Regions from separate parts of the Homo sapiens genome. Here all the other regions are linked to region 3. Evidence: fine-mapped expression QTL. A gene starts in region 3. Each other region holds a variant in brackets. All regions are shown on one strand. Distances are from middle to middle.

Region 1 (8,335 bases), 79 kb after region 3:
TTCCTTCATCTATGAAGCTCAGTTTTGCTGGATACACAATTCTTGGCTGCTAATTGTTTCGTTTAACGAGGCTGAAGATAGGGCCCCAATACCTTCTAGCTTGTAGGGTTTCTAGTGAGAAATCTGCTGTTGATCTGACAGGTTTTCCTGTATAGGTTACCTGGTGCTTTTGCCTCACAGCTTCTAAGATTCTTTCCCTTTGTCTTGACTTTAGGTAACGTGATGACCATGTCCCTAGGTGATAATCTTGTTGTAATGAATTTCCCAGGTGTTATATGAGCTTCTTGTATTTGGATGTCTAGGTCTCTAGCAAGGCCAAATAAATTTTTCTCAATTATTTCCCCAAATATGTTTTCCAAACTTTTAGATTTCTCTTCTTCCTCAGGAATCTCAGTTATTCCTAGGTTTGGTTGCTTAACATAATCCCAAACTTCTTAGAGGGTTTGTTCATTTTTTCTTATTCTTTTTTCTTTGTCTGTGTTGGATTGGGTTAATTTGAAAACATTGTCTTCAAGCTCTGAAGTTCTTTCTTCTTGTTTGATTCCATTGCTGAGGCTTTTCAGGACATTTTGCATTTCACTAAGTGCGTCCTTTATTTCCTGAAGTTGTGATTGTTTTTTATTTATGCTAGTTATTTCACTGAAGATTTCTCCCCTTATTTCTTGTATCATTTTTTTTTATTTCCTTAAATTGGACTTCAGCTTTCTCTGGTGCATTTTTGATTAGCTTAAGACTGAACTTCTAAATTCTCTTTCAGGTAAATCAGGGATTTTTTCTTGGTTTGGATCTATTGCTGGTGAGCTAGTGTGATTTTGGCAGGGGTTGGGGGGTGGCTGTTAAAGAACCTTGTTTTGTCATATTACCAGAATTGTTTTTCTGGTTCCTTCTCATTTGGTATGCTATGTCAGAGGGAAGATTTAGGGCTCAAGGCTGCTGTTCAGATTATTTTGTCCCACAGGGTGTTCCCTTGATGTAGTACTCTCCCCCTTTTCCTAGGGATGTGGCTTTCTGGGAGCCGAGCTGTAGCGATTGTTATCTCTCTTCTGGATCTATCCACCCAGCAAGTCTACCAGGCTTCAGGCTGGTACTACAGGTTGTCTGCACTGAGTCCTGTGATGTGAACTGTCTTTCGGTCTCTCAGCTGTGGGTACCAACACCTGCTCCAGTGGAGGTGGCAGGGGGTGAATTGGACTCTGAGAGGGTCCGTAGTTTGGGTTGTTTAATGCACTGTTTTTGTGCTGGTTGGCCTCCTGCCAGGGGGTGGTGCTTTCAAGAGAGCATCAGCTGTGGTAGTATAGGGAGGATCAGGCGGTGGGTTGGGGGTCCTATAACACCCAAGAGTATATGCCTTTTGTCTTCAGCTACCAGGGTGGATAGGGAAGGACCATCAGGTGGGGGTGGGGCTCGACGTGTCTGAGCCTTGGGTGGGTCTTGCTGCAGCTGCTGTGGGGGTTGGGGCTGTGGTTCCCAGGTCATTGGAGTTATGTTCCTAGGAGGATTATGGCTGCCTCTGCTATGTCATGCAGGTGGTCAAGGAAGTGGGAGAAATCCAGAAGTCACACTCTTCAACCAGCTTCCACATGACCCAAAAAGTGGGTCTCACTCCCACTGTGTCCCACCCAGCCCCATCAACAGCAACAGTCTGTTTCCAGCCAGCAGGTGAACAGGGCTGAGAACTTGCCCCAGGCTACAAGCCTCCCAGCTGCAAAAGCAAGTAGGGCTTTTGTGCTTCCCCACCTGTGGATTCTGCACAACAGATTCATGCCCTCCCCTGAGTTCTGGCCAGGAAACTTTGCGTTTGGTTGGAATTTTTACAAAGTTCAGCTGGAGATTTCCTTCTCCCTGTGGTCTTTTCTTAGTTCCTCCCCTCCCCAAGGACCCCTGTCAGACAAGTCTGAAATAGCTTCCCAGGAGACTCAGAGCCCACAGGGTTTTTGCCACTGCTTCCTCTACCACTGTATTTTGCTCAGCTTTCTAAATTGACTTAGCTCCAGGTAAGGTCAGAATCTTCTCCCATAATTTAGACCCTCAGGTTCCCCAGTGAGGGTATGTGTTTGGGGGCAGACGATCCCCCTTTCCCACCTCCACAGCTTAGGCACTCACAGTATTTGGGCTGTCTCCCGGGTTTTGCAGGGGCAATCCACTTCCTTCAGAGGGTCTGTGGGTTCTCTTGGCTTTCCTGGTTTATTCCTGCAGTATTCTGGAGTGGTTAGTTAACACTGAGGTTTAAAACCCTACACTCTTGCCAAAACTCAAGGAAAACATGGGCAGCTCCCTCCATCTCCTCCCTTCCTAGGAGAGAATAAGGAAAGGCATGTGGCCTAGAAGCAAGGGGAAGAAAGAGGGCCAGAAGGAGAGAGGAGACCAGCATGTGCCCAGGATTAAAATCAGGCAAGTTCTCCACTTACGAGGGAAAGAAGGACATTGTCAAACTGCCTTTAGAGAAAGGACAGAGACAGAAGGGAGTTTTGTTCTTGTTGTTGTTGTTGTTGTTGTTGTGTTTGTTTGTTTGTTTTTTGAGATGGAGTCTCGCTCTCTCTCCAGGCTGGAGTGTAGTGGCACTATCTCAGCTCACTGCAACCTCCACCTCCCAGGTTCAAGCGATTCTCCTGCCTCAGCCTCCTGAGTAGCTGGGACTACAGGCACGTGCCACCATGCCCAGTTCATTTTTGTATTTTTAGTAGAGATGGGGTTTCACCATGTTGGCCAGGATGGTCTCGATCTCTTGACCGTGTGATCTGCCTGCCTCGGCCTCCCAAAGTGCTGGGATTACAGGCGTGAGCCACCATGCCCAGCCGAGAGAAGGGAGTTTTAAATGTTCTTCAGTGTTTCCAAAGGGCCTTCTCCATGACCATTGCTGCTGTAAGCTTTCCCCTATAACCAGGAGGTCTGGCTACCCATGGCCCCACATCCGAAGGCTCAGTGGGTAGAAGAGCTGAGCCTTCTCTGGTGAGAAGTGAGGTGCTGGGCTTGGATATCGGTTTTTCAGCACACTAACCCAGTTACCACCCTCTTTCCTTCTCTCTCCACTAGTCACACACCCCTGTTTTCTAGGTGTGAACCACTGACAAAGCATTTTTCATGCACCTTGCTTTGGTGGTGATGTGGCCCACATCTACATAGGCTCCAACTACTGCCAGCAGCTGGTGGAATGACTTAAGGTCTAGCAGAAGTCATATGGATAGGTCATATTGATAGAGTCATATCGCTATCCCTGGCGATTACTGCAGGTGCAGTAATCAGCTCAGACAGCACTGTGTGTCTGCTTAATCAGATGAGTGTCTGGATGATGTGTGTTATTTGAGAAGAGCACAGAGATTTGAGTAGTTCAGCCCAGATTCAAGCTCTGACTCAGCTACTTACCCACCCAGTACATGACGTGAGTGAATTAGTTAACTTCTCTGAGCCTATTTCCTTATCTGGAAAATAGAATTAATGCTGACATCATAGGATCACTGTGAACTAAAGTGGTTAATTAAAAACAAAAGTATTTGTGAGGTATGAAAGCCTGCAGTGATATGGGACACCATAAAGGTGGAGAACGTAGTATCTGAAGTTGAAGAGCCCGGCACTTGGGTTCCAGCTACACTGGTCACTAGTGCGGGGACCTTGAACAGATGCTGATGCTTTTATTTTTAATATAGACTTTTTGTTTTTCAGGCAGGGTCTCCTTCTATCACCTACGCTGGAGTGCAGTGGCATAAACATGACTCACTGCAGCCTTGACCTCCTGGGCTCAAGTAGTCCTCCTACCTCAGCCTCCTGAGTAGCTGGGAACACAGGCACATGCCACTATGCCCAGCTAATCTTTCAGTTTTGTAGAGACAGGGTCTTGCTATGTTGCCCAGGCCAGTCTCAAACTCCTGGGCTCAAGCAATCCTCCCGCCTCAGCCTCCCAAAGTGCTGGGGTTACAGGCATGAGCCACTGTGCCCGGCTAGACTTTAATTTTTAGAGCAGTATTAGGTTCCCAAAAAAATTGAGTTGGAAGTACAGAGATTTCCCATATATCACCCCCAACCCCAGCTTCCTCCACTGTCAACATCCCATGCTGAAGCGGTACATTAGTTACAATTGATGAACCTACACAGACCCATCATTATCACCCAAAGTTCATACTTTGCATTAGTGTTCACTCTTGGTGTACATTCTAAGGGTCTGGACGAATGTATAATGACATGCATCCACCATTACAACATCATGCTGAGTAGTTCCACTGCCCTAAAAATCCTCTGTTCTTCACCTGTTCATCCTTTGTTGCCCCCAGACCCCTGATAACCACTGATGCTTCTACTGTCTCCATAGTTTTGCCTTTTTCATAATGCCATGTAGTTGGAATTACACAATATGTAGCCTTTTCAGATTGGCTGTTTCACTTAGTGACATGCATTTAAGCTTCCTCCATGCCTTTTCATGGTTTGATAGCTCATTTTCTTTTAGTAATGAATAATACTCCATTCTCTGGATGTACCAGTTTATTTATCCATTCGCCTACTGAAGGAAATCTTGGTTGCTTCCAAGTTTTGGCAATTACAAATAAAACTGCTGTAAACATCCATGTGCAGGTTTTTTTGTGGATCTAAGTCTTCAACTCAATTGGGCAAATACCCAGGAGAATGATTGCTATATCATATTCACTTTTCTGAGCCTCATTTTCTTCACTGGTAAAGTGGAGATAACAATAGTCCCATAGGGTGATTGTGAAGTTTAATTGAGATAATGCACATGAAGCCCTTAGCAATGCACCCAGCACATAGGCAATACTCAACTAATGGTAGCCCATCCTTGTTATCCTATTCAAGAGTAATGACAATACAAATGTGAGAGATGGAAATTCAAGTATTGACCGAGGGATATGACACATGGAGGTGGCATAGTCATGCGTCATCTGTCCATACTCCAAGAGGGCACAGGGCAACAAGAAATACTAGAAGACAGTCAGGGCACCACTGCTGCCATTGAGGTGGGATCTGGTCATCTCCTAGGGCCTGTGACCCTGAGTCCTGCAGTCCTGAGCTGCCAGGGTAGGGGAGGTGGAGATCAACCCATGGTCCCACAGTGAAGTGTGTCCCAGCTTTAGCAAACCAAGGTATCCTCCCACTGTGCATTCCTCTCCTCCCCAAGCCTGCTCCTCCAGCAGCTCCCCACTCCCCTCCTTTTGACT[T/C]ATCTGAGCCAAGCCCTGTCCCTAACTAGAAACTCAGAGGTGATGAAAACAAAGTTTTTTCCTCGCTTTACTTACTTCCTGTGAACTCGCTTAATTGTTCCCAGATTACTAGGTCACCAGGAGGATTTGGTACCTTGGATTTTTTTTTCTTCTTCTTCCTTATGCTTTCTGGAGACAACAAGGGTCACTTGGGGTCCTGCCTTGTGTGGCAAGGGTATGCTGATCGGATTTCTCTGGAATCCATTTCTGTGGTGTTTCTTGAGTGAGGGGATGGACTGAGTGGCCTGGGTGGTGTGTGGCTTTCAGAAAGCAATGCATTATTTTCTGCAGAAGTAACTAAAGACACGTTCTCTGAGCCTCCAGTGATAGGCCATGTTAGCTGGAAACAATAATGGTGGTTGTATTTCTGTTGTTTCTATCTCAGCCTTTCTTTTTCAGGCTGCCATAGAATTATTAAATGGTTTGAGTCAAAATCAGGCCTGAGCCTTTCAGAAGCCTTTCCTTAGACAAACACCGCTGGTAACGCTTTAGTTTAGCCTTCTGACAAGTGGGTCTCATTACTCCACCCATGTGCCCTTCCCCTCTGCTCCCATTCCCCTCTCTTGGATAAAAGCCTGGGGAGGAGTGAGAACTGCTTTGCCCTGTGCTCTTGGAGCAGGGCCTTTCTCTCAGGATACAAAGCCCTTGGGGAAGCAGGCAATTCTGCCCATGATGCTTCTGATGCTTTGGGTGGAAAAGGTTGCCACCCGAGAGCCTGGTTTAGGCACCACTCCAGCAACACCCAGGAATCAGCTGAGTGTCCCCCAGCATGTCACCTCCACGGTGAGGGTGTTGGACCTGATGACCTCTTCTAGATCCATTTTTAAACATTTCTCCAAGTGACTTTAGCACTACCCAGTAGAGGTTTCTACAATGACAGGAATGTTCACTAAAGGCTACCCTGTACAATAATGGCAGCCACTGGTCACGTGTTGCCTTTGAGCACTTGAAATGTGAATGGTACAGTGCAGAAAGACTTATTTCATTTAATTTTAATTAATTTAAATTTAAGGAGCCACAAGGGGCTAACGGCTACCATATTAGACAACACAGGCCTAGGCTACTGGATTCTGTATGTTTAAAACTGTGTGTTCCATCCATTCTATCTAGAAATTATACCACATCCACCCATGTCTCTTCATTTCCACAGTATCCACCTTAAGCTGAGCCACCAACATCTCTTTCTTAGGAAATGACAATATTTACTCCTTGGTTTCCTTTCTCTAACTTTAGCTCCCTCTGATCCGTTTGCTACAGTGAAAAGTGATCTTAAAACAAAAATTGACCAAGTTACTCTTCTCCTCAAAATCCTTCAACAACTTCCCCACTGCAGTAAAATTGAAAACCCCTCATGAGGCCTGCAAGTGCCTGCATGCTCTGAGCCCTGCTCCCTTGAGTGTCTGCACAGTCTGAGCCCTGTTCCTTCAAGTGTCTGCACACTCTGAGCCCTGTTCCCTTCAGGCCTCATGCTGTCTCAGTCTCCCCACTGTACCCACCACAAATTAGGCTTCTGGAAGCCATCAAACCCTTTTTCAGTTCAGGTCCTTTGCTTAAACTTCCCATTTGTTCTAGAGCTGTGCTGTCCAATACAGATGCCACTAGCCACATGTGGTTTTTAAGAAATATGTATTTTTTCATTAATTAAAATTAAACAAAACTTAAGATTTATTTCTCAGTCACACTAGACACGTTTTAAGTGCTTGCTAGTCACATGTGGCTGATGGTTACCATATTGGACAGCACAACAGTTCTTTTGGACAGCACAGTTCTGGGACATTTTTCCCCACACTTGAGCTTAGCTAATTCCTACCCATCCTTCAAGTCCAACATTCCATAGAGGCCTTTTCTGACCCTCCACTCTAAATTAAGGGTCCCCGCTTTATTTCTCACAGAACCTGCAATTTTCCTTTTCAGTTCTTCCAACTCTTTGCAAAATTATAGTTACGTGTCTGACTGTTTAATATTCATGTTTCCTATTAAGATCTAAGGCAGTGTCTCTTTTGTCCACCTGTCAATCCTCAGCCCCTGTCTCAGTGCCTGGCACTTAGCAGGAGCTCATTCATGTTGAGTGAATGAATGAAATAATGAATACGTATATAGATGGGTATAGTGGCTAAACATCATTTACTTGCCTAAAGAAACACAAAATCAAGAGTGAGAGCTTAGGAACCACATGGTCCTGAAATAAAACTCTGACTTCCATTCTTATTCTAACCTTTGGGAGCCACTGTCTCCTCATGTAAAAAACGAATGTTATTGCCATCTTAGACTGCTGTGCTGAGGAGTGAATGGGCTGACACAGGCAAAGCCCTCAACATATAATTATAATAGGTGTCATGTGTACATGCGTTTTTTTCTCTTTATCCCCTCTGCTATGTCCTTCTATCCTTCTCCATGGTCCCCTCCCTTCCACGCTGCATCTCTGGACCTGGCCTCTGCGTCTCTCATGCCTCAGGCCCATCCCTCTCTAAGAGATCTTTAGTTCCTGCCAACCTGTCGCAACTCAAGGATTAAACTAAACATTTCTCCAGCATAGAGCACCCCCTATGTTTGGGCATTCTTCACTGTCTTCCCTGTATGTGGCTGTATAAACCAGCCTGAACTACCTTCCCACCCAGAGCTCATAAAGGCAGACTCCAGCCTGCAAATGCTCTCAGAATAGCATTTGCTCAGAATAGCAGGTGCTCTTAACACCTGGCAGAGAGGGGCCCCATTCTCTTTGGGCATTTTCCATCAATTTGTATCTGCAGACCACATGCATCAGAATCACCTCCAGGGCTTGTTTAAAATTCAGATTCTTGGGTCTCACTCTAGATTTATTTAACCAGAATCTCTGCAAGGGGGGCCCTGAACCTGCATTTTCAATAACCAGCTCAGATGATTCAGAGCTCTTGTCAAGCCTTCTCAGGGTATAACATTTAACCCCGGGGAATACTGGGAGGATGGTTCCGATAAGCCACTCACTGATCCTCCTTTAATGTTTATACAATTTCATTTTTACATCAAAAGATCATTTACCAAACACCTACCTAGTGAGTTATTGAGTTTATTACTATTATTTGGAACTCATAAACTCACATGAGGAATTTTGTCAGGCTTAAAGGGGGTGCCAACCCACTCTTCTGCCCAGAGTT
Region 2 (8,335 bases), 21 kb after region 3:
AGCACGCACGCTGTAAGCACCTGGCTCCCTGTTAAGGGCCCTGTGGAGGGACAGCACGGGTGGTTTTTCTGTCTTGCTTTGGTTTGTTTGCCGGAGCACCCCCTTTCTCCTAACCCACCTATTCCCAACCCCAAGTGGTTCATCTGGGGTTTACCCTGCGTTTAAGCCTGAAGGGGATTTGCTGTTTCACTCAGGCAGCTCAGGACTCCTCCAGGAAGGCTGGGGAAAGCCACCCCTTCCCAGTGTGAACTCCCTGGGGGACGTCACATGTGCACCTGCAAGGCCAGTGTAGCCTGACCAGCGGGTCCAGAGAGGACTCCAGCCTCTGCGGTTTCCAAGGACACTGTACTAGGAATTCAGAGTTCTGGGCTTTAGAACCTGTGTGTGTCTCAACAGGTCACATTTTCAGTGTCCCCATGTGTAACAAGGGGTAATGATATGTACCACACAGCCGTCTTGTGAGGTCTATAGACCATATGAAAACACGGGCCATAGCCCTGGGTCTGGATCACCATGAGCTACCTTCCTCCCTCCCTCCCTGTCAGTTGGCACCACCTATCATACAATCCCAGAGTAATCTGTGTGAATAGTTTCCCTTGTAGTTGTGCAGTGCACAGCCTGTGCACCTGTATGTGGCAGGCTGGTTCCCAGGGACTCCTGCCTTCCTCAGTTCCTATCCTATTCTATTCTTTTCCTATTTCTGTTTTTGTTGTTGTTGTTGTTGTTGCTGTTGTTGTTGTTTTGAGACGGAGTCTCGCTCTGTCACCAAGCTGGACTGCAATGGCGTAATCTCGGCTCACTGCAACCTCTGCCTCCTGAGTTCAAGCGATTCTCCTGCCTCAGCCTCCTGAGTAGCTGGGACGACAGGCATGCGCCACCACACCCAGCTAATTTTTGTATTTTTAGTAGAGACGGGGTTTCACTACCTCTCTCCTGCCTTTGTCTTTGGACCCCAGTGACTGCCTTAAGCAAATTAGGCCCTTGGTGTTCTTGCCTGCACTTCCTAATGCCTCCCATCCCACATTGACTAAGCACCAGGTCCCCCTACCTCTGGGAGAAATGATGGCCCCAGGAGTGGCTTTGCAGGCCAGTTTGTTTTCTGCTTTCCTGAGTCCAGACTGTAAATGCAGCTGCTGGCAAAAGCAGCCTGCGTTAAAAACAAGAGCTAGAACTGGGCTGCTGGCGCCTGGGGCGGTGCTGACCTCAGCACCCTGAGGAGACCAGGACAGTTGGGGGAAGGGCGTCAGACACCCTCAGTTATCTGTGGTACCCCAAACGAGTAAAGTTTCCAGGGTGCAGAGCCCAACCCCTTTCTTTCTCACAATTGGCCTTAGAACACATAGCTCCAGTTTAAACTGACGCACACCTCCCCCACCCTCCCCCACCCATACCTCCTTTTACGCACACACCCACTCCCACACCCACACATGCATACACACTCCTCACACATATCCTGCATATACACAACTCCCCTCTTCCCCACAGCAACCCCCTCCCACACACACACACACACACACACACACACACACAAATGTGTGCATAGAACAAAACTTGCTTTCTCATGGCTTCTTGCCTAGGGCTCCAAGAGCTCTGGGTTTGGCCACAGAGCAGACTGGGTGCTTCTCGCCTTACTCCAGCCAGCCCAGGCAAGGACCGGACACCCTTCCTCCCTGGGATAGTCCTGCCAACTATGTCCTACACGAGGGCATCTAGAACCTGAAACTCAGCCCACCTTCTGCTCACTGAGCCTCATACCTGGCGCAGGGCTGTGTCTCACCAGATAAAAAGGGGCATGGTTATCAAGTCGGCACAGAGGCCCCTACTGGCCATATTAGACTGCCTGTTCTGCAAAGTGAGCTGCTTCCCAGGGCTCCAAGACCTCAGGCTTCACAGGAAGGAGCACTCGGGCCCCAGGCTGGACTAGGGCGGCAAAGGGTCGTCCTTGCTCAGGGTGTGGACCCTCTACTGGGCCTGGGGCGGGGTGTGTCTTGTGGGAAGAAGGCTGGGGTGCCCGGGAAGCTGATTCTGGGAGGTCCTGGGCCAGCACTTGTCTCTGGATGCAGATGCATTGGGGTGGGCAGGGGAGGAAGACAGGGAGGTGGTTCCTGGAAGTGGCAGGATGTGCCCCAGCCTGGCTCATTACTGGGAAGAAGTGAGGATGCAGCAGGAGTGGGAGGGCTCCAGAAGGCTGAGTGTCCTGAGCTTAGGAACCACATTTCCTGGCTGCTTCCCAGCTAGAAATCCCCATAGGCGCCACCTTAGGAAAGCAGGGCGGGGCTTTGTGCTCACATCACAGACTGCACAGCTTGAAGCTCCTCCCCACAGGCCCCTTTCTGCACAGGTGAGCTCAGTAAGGCCAGAGCAGGTTGAAAATTTGCCCGGATCACACATCTAGGGAACTCGGGTCTTCCTATTCCTGGTCCACGGCTTCTCAGCACATTATCATCACCTGCCCCGGAAGAGCACAGGGGGTAGGAATGAGGGCAAACCTCTCATCTCCAGGTTTCCTCTAGGGGTCTTTAGGGCTCAGACCTTGGCAGGTCTGGGCTGATCCTTGCAGCCTCACATTCCTAGCCCATCCAGGGCACCCTCATTGGAGCAGAGCCTGCACTTAAAGGCCTCTGGGTCTTCCCAGACTACGTGCCGGTACAGGCACGCCTGTGTGGGCGCTCCTGTGCCTGGGCAGAGCAGCCGAGTCCTGACGCCCTTCAAAAGGCCTTGCCAACCATCTGCTCGGGCCGCTCTTTGCCGTTACTTCTGGGAAGCATCTAATGTGGCATTTCTTCCCCGTTGTCAGCCAAACTCTTCCCACATTTTGGAAATTGATGCCTTGTTATTCCTCTTTTGCTCAAATGCCTTTAAATCTTGACGGAGATTTTTTTGGGGAGGGATGGGGTTTTGTATGTACCCACCGCAAGTAAGTGCCTGGTTTGAGGGCTCAGCCTCTGAGCTTCAGGCTCACATGGCTGTGAGCTGTTATAGAAAGAGAATGTGGGCTGCAAGTCAAGGAGCTGGGTTCCAGGCCTGAGTTTGCCACCACCTGGCTGTGTGAGCTTGGGCAAGCCCCTTAATCTCTTTGTGTCCAGATTCCCTGTCCTGTAAGATGTGTATGCCCTACTTACCTCCTGGGATACAGAGAATTATGAAGAGCGAATGAGGTCACGTGGCTGGAAACCCGAAGAAGTATGCTGCCCTGTGAGGGCCCAGGCACTGCATGCCAG[G/A]CCATGATGGAAGCCGGCGGGTGAGGAAGGGGTGGCTTTCCTTACTGTGTTTGTCTGATTGATTTCCTCTTGCCTGGCATTACTTCAAAGTGCTTTCTTTCCAGTCATCTGGAGCCTCCGGTTGGAGGGGACCATAGATCCCTGCAGGCTGCCCAGTCTCCAGGCCCGGAGCTGGCTGACTAGACCTCTTAGAGCCAGCAGACTTGTGCTATGAAGTCCAGGAAGGGCAGCTTCTCTGCTCTGTCTCTTGGGGCTTGAATCTCCCCCGACTCACTAGTCCATATTTCATGAACACTTGGGCTGCCGCAGGTGCCCAAGAGCTACCGTTGTGGGTCTCAGAGCCATCGCTGGGACCAGAGAGGGGAAGGGGGCCTGTCACTGGCCATAGCACTCACCGCAGCTGCTGAGGCAGTCTGTGCTGTCAGATCTTGTTGCCACAGCTCTACCACAGAGTCCTCATTCAGCTCTACCACAGACCCCTCATTCAGTCATTTGTTATCCCTATTTTGCAGCTGAGAAAATTGAGGTTCAGATTTGCCAAATAAATGAGAAAGCTAATCCTATACCATACCCTTTTTCTTACTGGGTCCAGTCCATACCTTTGAGATACCGCCATTCCTAGATCTGCACCTAAGTCCAGGCCAAGTGAACAACTAAATATCCACCCTACAGATGACACAGCCTCGGGGTTAGCCAGGAGCAGGGAAGTCGAGCTTCAGAGCAACCCATGGAGTCATTGCTTGATGGTCATGGTCTTCACAGCCACACCTGGCTGGAAGCTTCTGGCATTACTGAGTCTGTAATTGGATAGCAGCTTTCCAGAGCAAATAGGAGGCCTCTGCTTATAAAATCACGGAAAGAGTTCCCAGAAGCCCTTGGCCTGTCCTCAGGCAGAGGCAGACTTCACACAGGCATCCCCGAGGCCTGTAAGACAGCAGCCTGCAGCCTCTCTCTCTTGCTGTGCCTGCAAAGGGTCCCTTGTAGCTAATCTCCATCCATCCTGTTGTACTCCCCACCCTCACACCTCTGGTCTCAGATGCAGAGAATTGTGAACCGAGAAAGGAAGCTCGGAGGTTGTCCAGCTCAATCCCCTGATTTGACAGGCAAAGAGACAGAGGACTAGAGAGGGGAGATTCTTGCCCAAGGACACACAGTAAGTTAGTGGCTAAGCGGAAACGAGAGGTGGACTCACCCAGGCCAGTGCTCCTCTGGTGACTCCTACAGAGCACATCCCATCTCATAGAAACTAGGGCTTAAAAGGAGTGCTTTACAAAAAACAGCAGGGCAATGAGAACAGCCAAGGTCACAGCTCAGCAGTTTCACCTGCATCCTCTGATTTGTTTAGATCCTCACAATAACCCTACGACTGAGTCACTGATTCCTCAACCATAAAACTGAGGCCCAGAGATTACTCATTTACTGTCTCCCAGATGCCAAACGTGGAACAGGTTTCCACGTTTTCCACGTTTCACTTCCGTTCAGCAAATACTGATAGTGCACCTGCTGTGTGCCACACACCGTGCTGGGTGCAGGGGAAGCCCAGAAGGGTGAGGTGCTGCCCCTGCCCTGTCCAGCTCCCAGTGCACCGAGGATGATTTCAGTGAGCTGAAGAGCAGAACAGGAGCGTGCATGATGCTACAAGACCACTGAGGGCAGGGACAGGGATAGGCAGGGGTCTATCCTGTTCTGGCAGCATGGACATATTGCTGCCCCTCAGCCTTTGCAGACACAGCCTTCTCTTACATCGCTGGTGTCATCAGGGATTGCAGCAAGTTGCAGGGACAGAGCCTCTTCCCTTCTCTGCAGCTTCTCTGGTGTCTTTGTTTTCCCCAGCCTGGTGGAGGCGTGGCTACAGTGCAAGAGTTGAGTTTGGAGTTCAGGTCTTGGCTCTGACCCCCAGCATTGCATGGCCTTGGGCCTTTCTCTCACCCTCTATAAACCTCCATTACCTTGTCAGCATAGGACTCAACACTGGCTGCCCTGGCTGCCTTAGCCTGTTCTGAGCCATTGAGCCAATATATTGGGGCTGAGATTTGCTGGACAGGTGAGAGGGAGCTGCAGCCCAGTCTTGGTCCTCCCAGCAGCCCCTCCTGTGGCCTGCACTGGCACAGCTAAAATCCAGATTGGGGAATAAGGAGCAGCAGAAGGCCAGAGGCCTGGCAGGGAGTTGTGGAGGGTCCCTACTGCCCTCCTGCTGTGAGCTGTTTGCAGAGGTGGGGGTTGGGGATTTTCTTAGCCCTCTGGCCCCTCCCTACCCACAGCTCTGAGGGACTGCCTTTGGGAGGTGACAGCAGCCTTGCCATGCGCTGTGCTGAAGGGAAGATAAAAATAGGCTGGAGCCATCCCTGGGAAGGGAAGGATGGACAGAGGGATGTAGGAAGGAGGGGAGTAGTGCGGGCTGCAGGCTTCACCTGAAGTGGGAATGCTTAGGCTTCCCGGGCTCCAGTGAGGAGCTGGCTGTGCCTGCGTGCCAGGGAGGGAGGGAGGGAGGCAGGGAGCGGCCAGGTGCAGAACGGCTGGATGGCTGACAGCTGGGTCATCTGGCCTCACGACTTGCCAACTGTTTGACTCTCTCCTCTCTGAACCTCAGTTTCCTCCCCTGGAAGTGAGAACGATACTCCTCGCGCTGCCTGCCTCAGAGCGTGTCGTGAGGGTGACATGAGATAATGACATGAACATCTTACCGTCTGCAGCAAGCACTGAACTTCGAGTTGGAGGCTAGGGGTCGTGTCTCATGGGTGGTATTGGCTGAGTCACTTAACTCCTAGAGTTTGCGTGAACATCTCCGAGGGAGGGTTGATGATGCCCCTGCCCACTGGGCAGAGCAGCCTCTGAAGCACTTTCCTGGGCCTTGTCTCTGAGCCGAGACAGGACACCTGTGTTCAAAAGAGAAGGCAAAATCTAGTTCACACCAGGCCCTCGATGACGCACCCATCAGGAACTATCCTCAGGATGGCACCTGGAGATACTGGGCCAGCTCTGCCCCTTCCTGAGCCTCAGTTTCCCTATCTGTAAATCAGGAAGTTGGACCATTGATGGCTAAGCTCCTCGTAGCCTCATAGGTCTACGCCACAGGAGCAGGGGGAGAAGGCTCAGGTGTTAGTTGAGCTGTATATTCATTGAGCAGCTGACAGATCTTGGAGAAAATCACATGGCAATGGGAATGCTTGGAAGCACTTCATTTACCAAAGACAGAGGAGCTGAAAATGGAGTAGTACTGGCATCCGGGTAACCAAAGGAGGGTTTGACCTTCCTTTGTTTGTTAGAATTCTCTTACAGCCACCAGGGAAACATTACAGGGGTCCTCCAGGAAGCTTTAGGGCAGCAAGTTTTCCCGACCGTCTGATCCCATCCCCCTACCCCCTGTGGCAGTGCCTCCACACGTCCTAAATATGTACCCCACTGGGTGTTCACTAGATGCCACAGGGTGGGGGAAAGGCTTTTTAAACCTAGCTCCGTTGGCTCCATTCATCCTCATCCCCCACCCCATCGATGCCTGCTACTTAGTCTGAAATGACAGCCTTTGAAAGTGAAAGCCAACTCGGTGCAGTGGTTCATAGCACTGACTCCAGGGCTACCTTCCTGGACTTGAGTCCCAGCCCATTGCTTACCAGCTGGGTGACCTTAGACAAGTTCCTTTATCTGTTTGTATCTCTGGTTACTCCTCAGAGAAGTGGGGCTGATATTAGTGTCTAATGACCCTACACAGAGTCATCGTGAGGATTAAAGGAATGAATGATTATAAAGTACTTAGGTCAGTGCTGAACACCTTTTGAATGCTATTGTTATTTTTATGGGCCAGTGGTATTCAAAGTGTGGCCCTTGGACCAACAGCATCAGAATCTCCTGGGAGCTTGTTAGAAATGCTCTGCGCCAGACCTACTGAATCAGAAACTTTGGGGATAGAGTCCAACCATCTGGGTTTTAAGAAGCCCTGGGGGGATTCTGATGGAGGCTAAGTCAGGACCCCTGTTAAAGACAGTCAGAGCTTCTTAAGTCTGACTCACTCACAAGGCAGTTGCCTGATGATCTTGCCTGGTCTCTAGCCTCCCTCTGTGAGGCAGGGCAGGCTTTTTCCTAATGATTTGGTTTCCCATTCGATGGTGGCAATGAGCTTTGGGTCCCCAGTGTGTGTCACCTTGGAACCCTTGTGCTATGGGGAGCCAGGATGGTTGGTCACTTTAGTACCCAAGAAAGGGCTCCTACCTTGGTGCCAGAGGTATGCCACGGGGGAGTGGCAGGAGGAGAGGCTGAGAACCCTGCTCAGACTCAGAATGGGAAAGCCTAACACCTCCATCTTCATGCGACTGCTGCTGCTCATGGGCTGTGTGCCCTTCGACAAATCACTTGACTTCTCTGAGCCCCACTTCCTTATCTCTTGTCTTCCTATTTTATGTAAGAGGAGCCTGAGACACAGAGGTAAGACCTACTGGGGCTCTGGGTGTCAGTGAATGTATAGACTATTGGTCCACCCTCCTACTTCAGCTCCTACTGGATCCACAGCTACTTGGGATTGAGCAGAACAACTTCTCTGGGGCTCCTGTAACCAGTCTGACCTAAAGCAGCTTAGTGCTAGATAACCAAGATGCGGGTGGCCAGAGTTCCAGTCACATCCTAAGGAAGAAACCCCTTGTGGTTTCAAGAGTTGGGAATTTTGTGCTGCAGCTGATTACAAAGGAAAGAGCCTGAGTGAGAACAAGATGTTTTTATAACAAGAATTGCAGATTTCTTCCAGACCAGTGACAGGCATGGTCTGAACCATCATCAGTATCTACTTTTTAGTGTTTCATTGTTTTCAGACCTTAGAAAGAATTTCTGGGTCTTTGTGTCAGATTAGGTGTCCAGACTTTCTTTTCCAGCGGGCTGCTAAATACAGTAAGCACGGATAGGGGAGCTGGTATGGAAATAATGACGTTAATAAGAGTTACTAGGCCAGGCGCAGTGGCTGGCTGGGGGCGGTGGCTCACACCTATAATCCCAGCACTTTGGGAGGCCAAGGCAGGCGCATCACCTGAGGTCAGGAGTTCAAGACTCAGCCTGGCTAACATGGTTAAACCTGTCTCTACTAAAAACACAAAAATTAGACGGGCATGGTGGCGCATGCCTGTAATCCC
Region 3 (8,335 bases):
ATGGAAGGAGATAGGTCATAGGACATGCACATCTTCAGCTTCACTAAGCAATGCCAAACTGTTTCCCAAAGTATTTGTGCCAGCCTGCACGCCCATCAGCATTTTATGAGAGCTCCCATTGCTCTACATCCTCACCAACCCTACCATCCAACTTTTTATTCTTGCCATTTTGGTGGGTATGGAGTGTTAGTGTGGTTTGGCATTTCTCTAATTACTAATGAGATGCAACATGTTTTCTTGCGTTTATAGGGCATTCATGTAGCCTCTTGTAAAAGACATTTTTGTAGCTCTTGCCAAGTTTTTTTCTATTGGAATGTTTGTCTTTGTTATCGATGCACAGCCATTAGTTCTATATTCTGGATGTGCTTTCATGGGTTTTTGTGTATAGGAAATATCTTTTCACTCACTTTTGTATTTTTAGTTGAACGAAAGTTTTAAATTTTGCTAGTGCTAAACTTAGTTTTTTTCATTTTTCAGTTTGTGCTTCTGACGTCTTGTTTAAAGAACTCTTCCTGACTTTGTGGTGATATATATGCAATCTCTATTGCAACTTCTGTATATGTCAGGCTTCCAAATTTCCTGGCTATTTACTGTGTTGTTATTCTGTTGGTCTCTGTGCCAAAACCATATTAACCACTGTAACTCCATAACAATGTCCACTAGGGCAAGTCCTCTTCGCTTAGTTGTTGCCATTGCTATGTTACTGTTGTCCTCTTCTCTTCTCTGTTCTCCTTTTTCTGCCCTCCTTCCCCTTCCACCTCTCCCTCTCCTCCTCCTTATTCTTCTTATCTTCTTTCTTCTCCTGGAATATCTAAGCTTTTTTTTACTATTGCTCTATAAGTTATACATTTTAGAATCACCTTGTCAATTTCCATGGAAAACCTTATTTAGATTTTGATTTCAATCATATCTCTCAATTATTGAATTTATCAATCATGTTGTAAAGAATTCACATGTTTGTGACAAGGAATCCTTCCACAATGGAACATGGCATGTCTCTCCCATTTACTTAGAACTTCTTTAACATCTTTCTATAAAGTTTTATTATTTTTCACATAAAGATCTTGCATATCTTTTGTCAGATTTATCCGTAAGTTTTTGTTCTTTTGAACACAGTATCTTTTTTGAATATTATCTTTCATGACCTTTTATTGCTAGTCTATAGAAATGCTCCATTAGTTCCTTTTTTAAACAGATAGATTTCAACTACTCAAGACTGAGACGGGAGTAGATGTGTCAACACGCACTTGGTAAATTAGATATTCGGAACAGACATTCAGCAGTAGACAATGGCATGGCCGTACTGATTACAAAATTCTTGAAATACTTCCATAATGGGGCCCCTTGATTTCTTTCCTGTCACGCTGGCCATACTGACCTCTCTCCGGGGACAGGCTCAGATCTCTCCAAGGTCCAGACGCCACTGTATTAACACCAGGCGTGGCACGGGGCCGCAAGCCTTGCTCCACTAGGAAGGCCAGTGTCTGTTCCGGGTGTTTGATTCTCATGCCTTGTGAGTTGTTAAATATCTTTAATATTACTCCTTAGGTTCGTATGTTGGTAGTAGCTAAACACCAAGGGTGAAATATTAATCTGAGTGAATTCTCAACAAGAGATGATCAGTTTTGGGGTTCAAGGAGGGAGTCGGGAGATCTGAGATGTAACTAAGGAGATTCTATTCAGCACTGGCCTCTGATAATCCCCCCTCCCCTGAAATCCCTGCAGCTTCACCACACTCCTCTTGAAGCTCCTGCAGGCACTTCAAACGCAACACGTTTTAGATTGAACACATTATCTCTGTCTGCTAAATCAGCTCTCTCTCTGCCTCCCCTAATTAGTGGAAGAGCTTCTCCAATGATCTTATCCCCTATGGTAGAAAATTCAAAATCATCCTAGACTGTGCCTCACCCTTATGTCCTCTTTTTTTTATCACATACCAAGATCTGACAATTCTATTCCATGAAAAAAATCTTTTGAGTCTGACCTCTTCTCCAATCCCATTGCAGCTGTCTCCTAAGTTTTGGAATAGTTTCCTAAATGGTCTCTTGGCCTCTGTATTCGTCTGTTTTCACACTGCTGTGAAGAAATACCTAAGACTGGGTAATTTATAAAGGAAAAAGGTTTAATTAACTCACAGTTCTGCATGCCTAGAGAGGCCTCAGGAAACTTACAGTCATGGCATAAAGGGAAGCAAACACGTCCTTCATAAGGCGGCAGGAGAGAGAAGTATGAGGAACCAAGTGGGAAGAGCCCCTTATAAAACCATCAGCTCTCACGAGAACTCACTCACTATCATGAGAACAGCATGAATGAAACTGTCCCTATGATCCAATCTCCTCCCACCAGCTCTCTCCCTAAACGCATGGGGATTATGGGGATTACAATTAGAGATGAGATTTATGCGGGGACACAAAGCAAAACCATATCAACCCCCAACCTCTTTTGCCCCTCCAACACTGCTCTTGGCATTCCAGTTCCTGCCTGGTCCATAGCCTACTCCTTCTTCATCTGTGGAAGGGAGGGTAGTGGGAGTCATTAGCCTGGGCAGGGAGGAGTGTTTTATCACTACACTGTTTAGAATGGTGCCAATACAAAGCACATCAACTTTCAGCAAGTTTATTATTGGGTTTAAATTCTCTACACACGATGCACTGCTTTTGCCTACACCTGGACAGTGTTCCCACTCACTCTCCTTAGTATGATGCTGGAGATAATATGATCTGCCATGAAGGTTAAATAAAGCAATGTTCACTGAGAACTTAGCCCAGGCCCCTGCACATGCTGAGCATTTTGTTAATGTAACAATGATTAGTAATAGCATTGCTATTGGTTCCCCATCTCTGGCAAAGCCTTTCATGCTTGGCCTCCCTCACTCTCTTTCACCTTCCTAAACCCTACACTCCAGCTATGCCAAACTGTTTACTCTGCCTTGGACACACCAAGTTCCTCAAGCCTTTGCAAATACTCCTTACGCTCCTAGAACAATGGATGTCAATTCATCATTTAGGATCCAGCTTACAGTCATGCTTTCCATGAAGCCTTCCTCAAATTAGCCACACAAAAGGAGTGACTCCTCCCTGTATTCCCATGACCCTCTGCTCATGCCTCCTCTTTAAAGCCTGCCTTCACTGGAGTTCCTGGAAGGGAGAGTCTGTTCAGCACTCATCTCTGTATCCACAGTCACCAAAATTGTAACTGCCCCATAATAAATTCCCAATACTTGCAGGGATTTTGCTTCTTGGCTTGTTTTGTTTTGCTGGAATGAATGAATAAGTAAATGGGAACGATTTTGACTTCACCCTAAGCCTAGCTAAAAGTTTGGGTAGTGACAGTTTTGGTTATTTTGTGTAACCTGATAGTGGATCCCCTTTCTATGCCAAAAAAAAAAAAAATCCCCCAATACTAGAGTACCTGTTTTCCTAGGGAATTGACCTCAGCAACTGAAGGAGAGGCGATTCAAAGCAGGGAGTGTGATGAATAGGTCAACTCTGTCCTCGCAGCCGTCCCTGAGAGGGCGCTGTTCCCAAATCGAAGCCCCAGAGGCGGAGACTGAGACACCGGCACTCTCCCACTGGACTGGGTCAGCATCCCTCTCCCCGCGCGGCCGCAGGTCTAGAGCTGAGCGCCTGCCCACAAACATGGCGGCGCCCTGCGCGGCTTCCCGTCGCCGCAACCGTGGGGCCGGCCCTGCCTTGCCAGTACTAGGGGACTTCCTCTGCGCGCCGGCTTCCTGCCCAGCTGGCATTTAAACCACCGCCTGGGGCTGCAGGATGCTGCTGCGGATGCAGAGCTGTCCGCGGGCTGGGCAGCGTCGCCGTCTCCCCTGAGCCGCCTCGGTCCGGCAGGAGCGGAGCCGAAGCATCCCTTGCTGCACGCAGGGCAGAGCAGGCGAGGGCTGGGGGCCGATCGGGGACCCCGGCTTGGGACCCCGGCATCTGGCAGTTTCCTTGCAGGTTCAACTTTAATTGCCAAGATTTCACCCCTCCTCCTCAAGCCCAGATTATTTATCCTCCCTCCGGCCTGGGCTGCTGGATGCAGCAGCGGCTGGGCTTGGTCCCAGGAGCAGGGAGAGTGCGCTCCCGGCCCTCCTAGCCGCGTGCCCGGGCCATGGTGCGGCTGAGCCCCGCGCTTGGGTGAGGCGGCGGCGCGGCTCGGAGCCCGGCGGACCGGTCCTACGGGACATCTTCCCCTGAGGAGGAGTCTTCCCCTGGGGCTGCGTGCCGGGGGCGAGCGGCGGCCGCGATGTTCAGCTGGCTGGGTACGGACGACCGCCGGAGGAAGGACCCCGAGGTTTTCCAGACGGTGAGTGAGGGGCTCAAGAAACTCTACAAGAGCAAGCTGCTGCCCTTGGAAGAGCATTACCGCTTCCACGAGTTCCACTCGCCCGCCCTGGAGGATGCCGACTTCGACAACAAGCCCATGGTTCTGCTGGTGGGCCAGTACTCCACTGGGAAGACCACCTTCATCAGGTGAGCCGGCCCAGGGTCCTGGCAGCCCACCCCGGAGCCCAGCGCCTAGTCCCTCCGGTCACTCCTGGTGCTCCATCCCAGACAGGGGACCAATGGGAAGCCTTCAGTTGAGGGCTCTGAAGAGATCTGTGTTTGTGCAGGCGTCAAAATCTTACCCCACAATTTTTGCTGGTCCCCCTTCCCATCCTACCCAATACCTGTCCACTCTACTTGGCCCTTGGCTGTGGTGGTCAACCTGAAGTATTCAAGTGTAAAGCCATTCCCAGTCTCCCCATCTTATGGATGATGAAACCGAGGCCCAGGAGGCACAATGGAAGAGCTCCTGGTCTCTGGAGCGCCTTATGTTGGTGGGGATGTCTTACGTCTTCACTTTTTAGCAACACATCATTCACGGGCAAAACCTCTTCCCTTGTTTTTCAAGGGGCTTGGCACTCACATGGGGGCCTCACAGTTGCAGCTGAGTTCTGATGGGTGCGGGCCTGGGAACGGAGGTGGCCTGGGGATGCTACTTGTCCTCCTTTTATCATTTCCTTCTCTAAAGCAGAGCTCCTGTGTATATATCTTGGAGACTCAACAGAAGCTGAGTCCAGAAGCAGAATGCTTTTTTTTTCCCCTTTCTCTTATTTGATCTTAATGGCTTAATAATAATATTAAAGACGCTTAGAGATGGAAGGGATATTGGCATTGTCTCATCCAGTTGCTGAGTTTGCAGGTGAGATAACCGAGGCGCAGAGAAGTTAAATGAATTGTGCAGAGCCATCTAAAGAGTGGGCAGCAGACCTGGGATGTTAAGTCCTAGATGCATGTGAGGAGATGCTTGGCTAAACGCCTGTAACTCTGAGAATGAGTCATCCATTCCCTTCAATTACAGAATCCTTGGGCTGGAGGGAGGCTCAAGAAGTCAATTTGTTCACCCTGCATTCAGAGAAGTCCACCAGAGGCCCTTCTTATCTTTAGAGAACAGGCTTCACTCCAGTCCTCAATCTTCCCAACTTCAAGGCCAGCCATTTTCTTGGCCCCTTTTATAGCCATTCCAAATTGTTGAGAATGCTGTGGCCCTCTGTCTTAAGACTCAGGCTCCCACAGCTTGAGAATGGAGTTTGGTGGCCCCCCAAAGTCAAGTGTGCTCATCTCCTGCAGAGGGTTTGGAAAGCAGGGGTACCCTTATTCCTATTCCTTGGCTGTTTGAGCATCCACAGCATGTGAAATGCTGTGCTTTGTTTGGTGAGGAGTGCAGAAAAGTTAACAGTCTAGTTACTAATTTTCTAGGTACTAATTTTCTCTAACATCCACCTTGTAACGCCAGCCTTCTGGAAGTAGCACCATGCTAATAGGTCATGTCTAAACACAACACCACATTGAGTTTGTCCTTGTGGAGTGCACAGCCTAGGGCTCAGCAGCTTTAAGAGGCCAAGTGATTTCTGAAGGAGTTTGGGAGGTGATGGGCCTGTTGGCTCTTGTATGTTTTATATTGATAGAACTGCAAGAGGCCTTAGAGATTAAACTAATCCATTGCTTCTTAACTTTCTATCTTTAGAAAAATGTACGTACATCCCAAATTTGCATATAATGTTGGGGGTCCAAGGGCCTTCTTTGGACTTTAGGGTGGGAACCCCTGATCTAAGCCATGCTTCTTGTTTTATTAAGCACCCATTGCTGCCAAAGGCACTTCAGAGCTGCCTGGGTTGCCTGCAGAGTTTCCTTTGTGAGCCCTGGCCTCCACTTGGCCCATTCATGCCTCAGGGGAAGTTCAGGCCATTTGCAGATGGCCCTTGCCCTCTCAGCCTTCCCTGGCTCTCTACACATATGGTATTTATAACCTTTCATACATTATCTGTAGCTTCTCCTTCCTGGTGTACAATCATTGACAAGACAACATCCATGCCTTAGCATCTCTGGGGCCTTGCCCAGGGTCTCGGCTATAGGAGGTTCCCAGTAGACATTTTGCAGAATGGGAGGGAAGATGGGGAGAGGTGAGGATCCCCAAGCAGCAGACAGGTTTGAGCGCCTTTTGTCTGAGACACTCTCCCGGCTTTGCCTAAGTCATCACTGGCTGTTAACTGGGTCTAAGAAAGTGGCAGAGTCAAATTGCCACAGATGATTCCTCATCTGAGGGAGACAGTAAGACCGGGAGAGGCAGATCGCTCTTCTTTCTTATCCTCCATGTGCAGTAGTTCCCTCTCCCCACTCATGTCAGCAACTGAATTTAGCTCATGCGTCAAAAGCTGTCTCCCCTTGAGGGAGTGTCAGCCAGCGCTGTAGGAGGGGTCATACCACAGGGAACCCTCCAGAACCAAATCATGTACTTTTCTTCTTTCTCATAAAATCCAGTAAACAGTTGTTTTTAATTGGAAAATATAGAAAAGAATAAATTTAAAGAAGAAAAAAAGTCACCCATAATCCCATGACTTAGGAGAAGCTATTTTAATTTACATATAAAATATATTTATATATAAAGCATATAATTTATATATAAATATATTTCCAGTATTTGTAGCTATTTTATAGCACAGTTGAGATCATGCTATACATATAATTTTGTATGCTGGCTTGTTTATTTTTGTTTTTGTTTTTGAGATGGAGTCTCACTGTGTCACCCAGGCTGGAGTACAATGGCACAATCTCGGCTCAGTGCAACCTCCGCCTCCTGTGTTCAAGCAGTTCTCCTGCCTCAGCCTCCCAAGTAGCTGGGGTTACGGGCACCCGCCAACACGCCTGGCCAATTTTTGTATTTTAAGTAGAGATGGGGTTTTGCCATGTTAGGCAGACTGGTCTTGAACTCCTGACCTCAGGGGATCCACCCACCTCAGCCTCCCAAAGTGCTGGGGATTACAGACGTGAACCACTGCGTCTGGCCAGTTTTTCTTACTTATAGCATGAACATTTCCTATGTTATAAGCGTTATTTGTCAGCATTATTTTTAACAACTGCATACTATTTCACTATTTGTATATACAATTATTCATTCAACTAATGAATAGCATTGTTTTTAACAGCTGCATACTATTCCATTGTGTGTATATACGATTCTTCACTTAATCTACTTCTCTTGGATGTTTTAGGCTATTTCTAATTTTTTGTTATTGTAGAATAATTCTGAATATCTCTGTGTATAATATTTTTTCCTATATTGTGTGTGTGTGTTTTTTTTGTTTGTTTTTGTTTTTGTTTTTTTGAGATTCCCAGAAGTGGAATTGCTAGGCCAAAGGTTGGGCAGGGTTTTGTTTAAAATATTTTTTAACTTTAAAATTTTTGTACTAAGAGTCATATTTTGCAGTTGTTTTCCGAGAGGGTGAGTTGACACTGCATCCCTTCCCCATTGCGAGTAAGGCTGCTCTGGGGTGGATAAGTGCGTCCATGCCTAGGTCTCAGAAGGCCTCCTCCTCTCCCTTCTCCCATCCCTGCTTCTTGCCTTGATTCTTGTCTCCATGCCAGGCCTGAACCTGTGAGGGGCCTTTTCCTCAGAAACAAAGATTTGCCTCTTTATTCCCCCAGTTCTTGGCGTTTTGCCCCTGAGGGTCCATCCACTTTCAGTAATATGTGCTTGCCACAGCGTCTATTTCTTGTCTGAGGAAGAACACACAGAAAAGGACATTCTTTTAATAACTAGTTAATGTGCTGTGATCTCTGCCTGAAATAACTTCCCCGGCCTAAGGCCCGGCAACACAGAGTAATAAAATGAACAGTAAATTGGCTTGGCGGCTGCCCTCTCCAACACAGGCTGCCTCTTTGGAGTACAGTAGCTCTGTGTCCCTCTGGCCCTGGCAGCCTTTCCTCCTGCCTCTGCTATTCTTCTCCCTTTGCTATTTCTCTGCCCGGCATGCAGCCTTGAATCCCTCCTTCCTTGGACCATCTGGCCCCTGGTC

Which allele goes with the higher level. Alleles are on the strand shown, and positions count from the first base shown. SD is a standard deviation of normalised expression in the study named. Not every link is listed here.
As copies of T replace C in region 1, the expression in esophagus mucosa of the gene that starts at base 3,773 in region 3 goes down (small effect, 0.37 SD a copy in GTEx).

What was found. PIP is the estimated chance that this variant, and not a neighbour inherited with it, causes the effect.
Region 1: its variant is fine-mapped to the expression of EHD3 in esophagus mucosa (GTEx, PIP above 0.99).
Region 2: its variant is fine-mapped to the expression of EHD3 in whole blood (TOPMed, PIP above 0.99). The same link has a PIP of 0.9 or more in blood mononuclear cells.

What each region holds. Positions count from the first base shown.
Region 1 is chr2:31,309,790-31,318,124 of GRCh38, forward strand. No RefSeq gene overlaps it. Among named protein-coding and RNA genes, the nearest start is that of EHD3, 80 kb to the left of the region's middle. The variant T/C (reference allele first, on the strand shown) is at 5,163.
Region 2 is chr2:31,251,751-31,260,085 of GRCh38, forward strand. All of the region lies in intron 3 of EHD3 (EH domain containing 3), which reads left to right. It overlaps LOC124905983 (a long non-coding RNA gene), which reads right to left. Exons shown (of 4, transcript XR_007086270.1): 2 at 5,906-6,097. Among named protein-coding and RNA genes, the nearest start is that of EHD3, 22 kb to the left of the region's middle. RefSeq lists enhancers at 976-1,055, 1,096-1,145, 1,426-1,505, 4,457-5,284, 5,370-5,419. The variant G/A (reference allele first, on the strand shown) is at 3,222.
Region 3 is chr2:31,230,380-31,238,714 of GRCh38, forward strand. EHD3 (EH domain containing 3) reads left to right here and starts at 3,773. Exons shown (of 6, transcript NM_014600.3): 1 at 3,773-4,469. The coding sequence starts at 4,243. It also overlaps a transcript of CAPN14 not described here.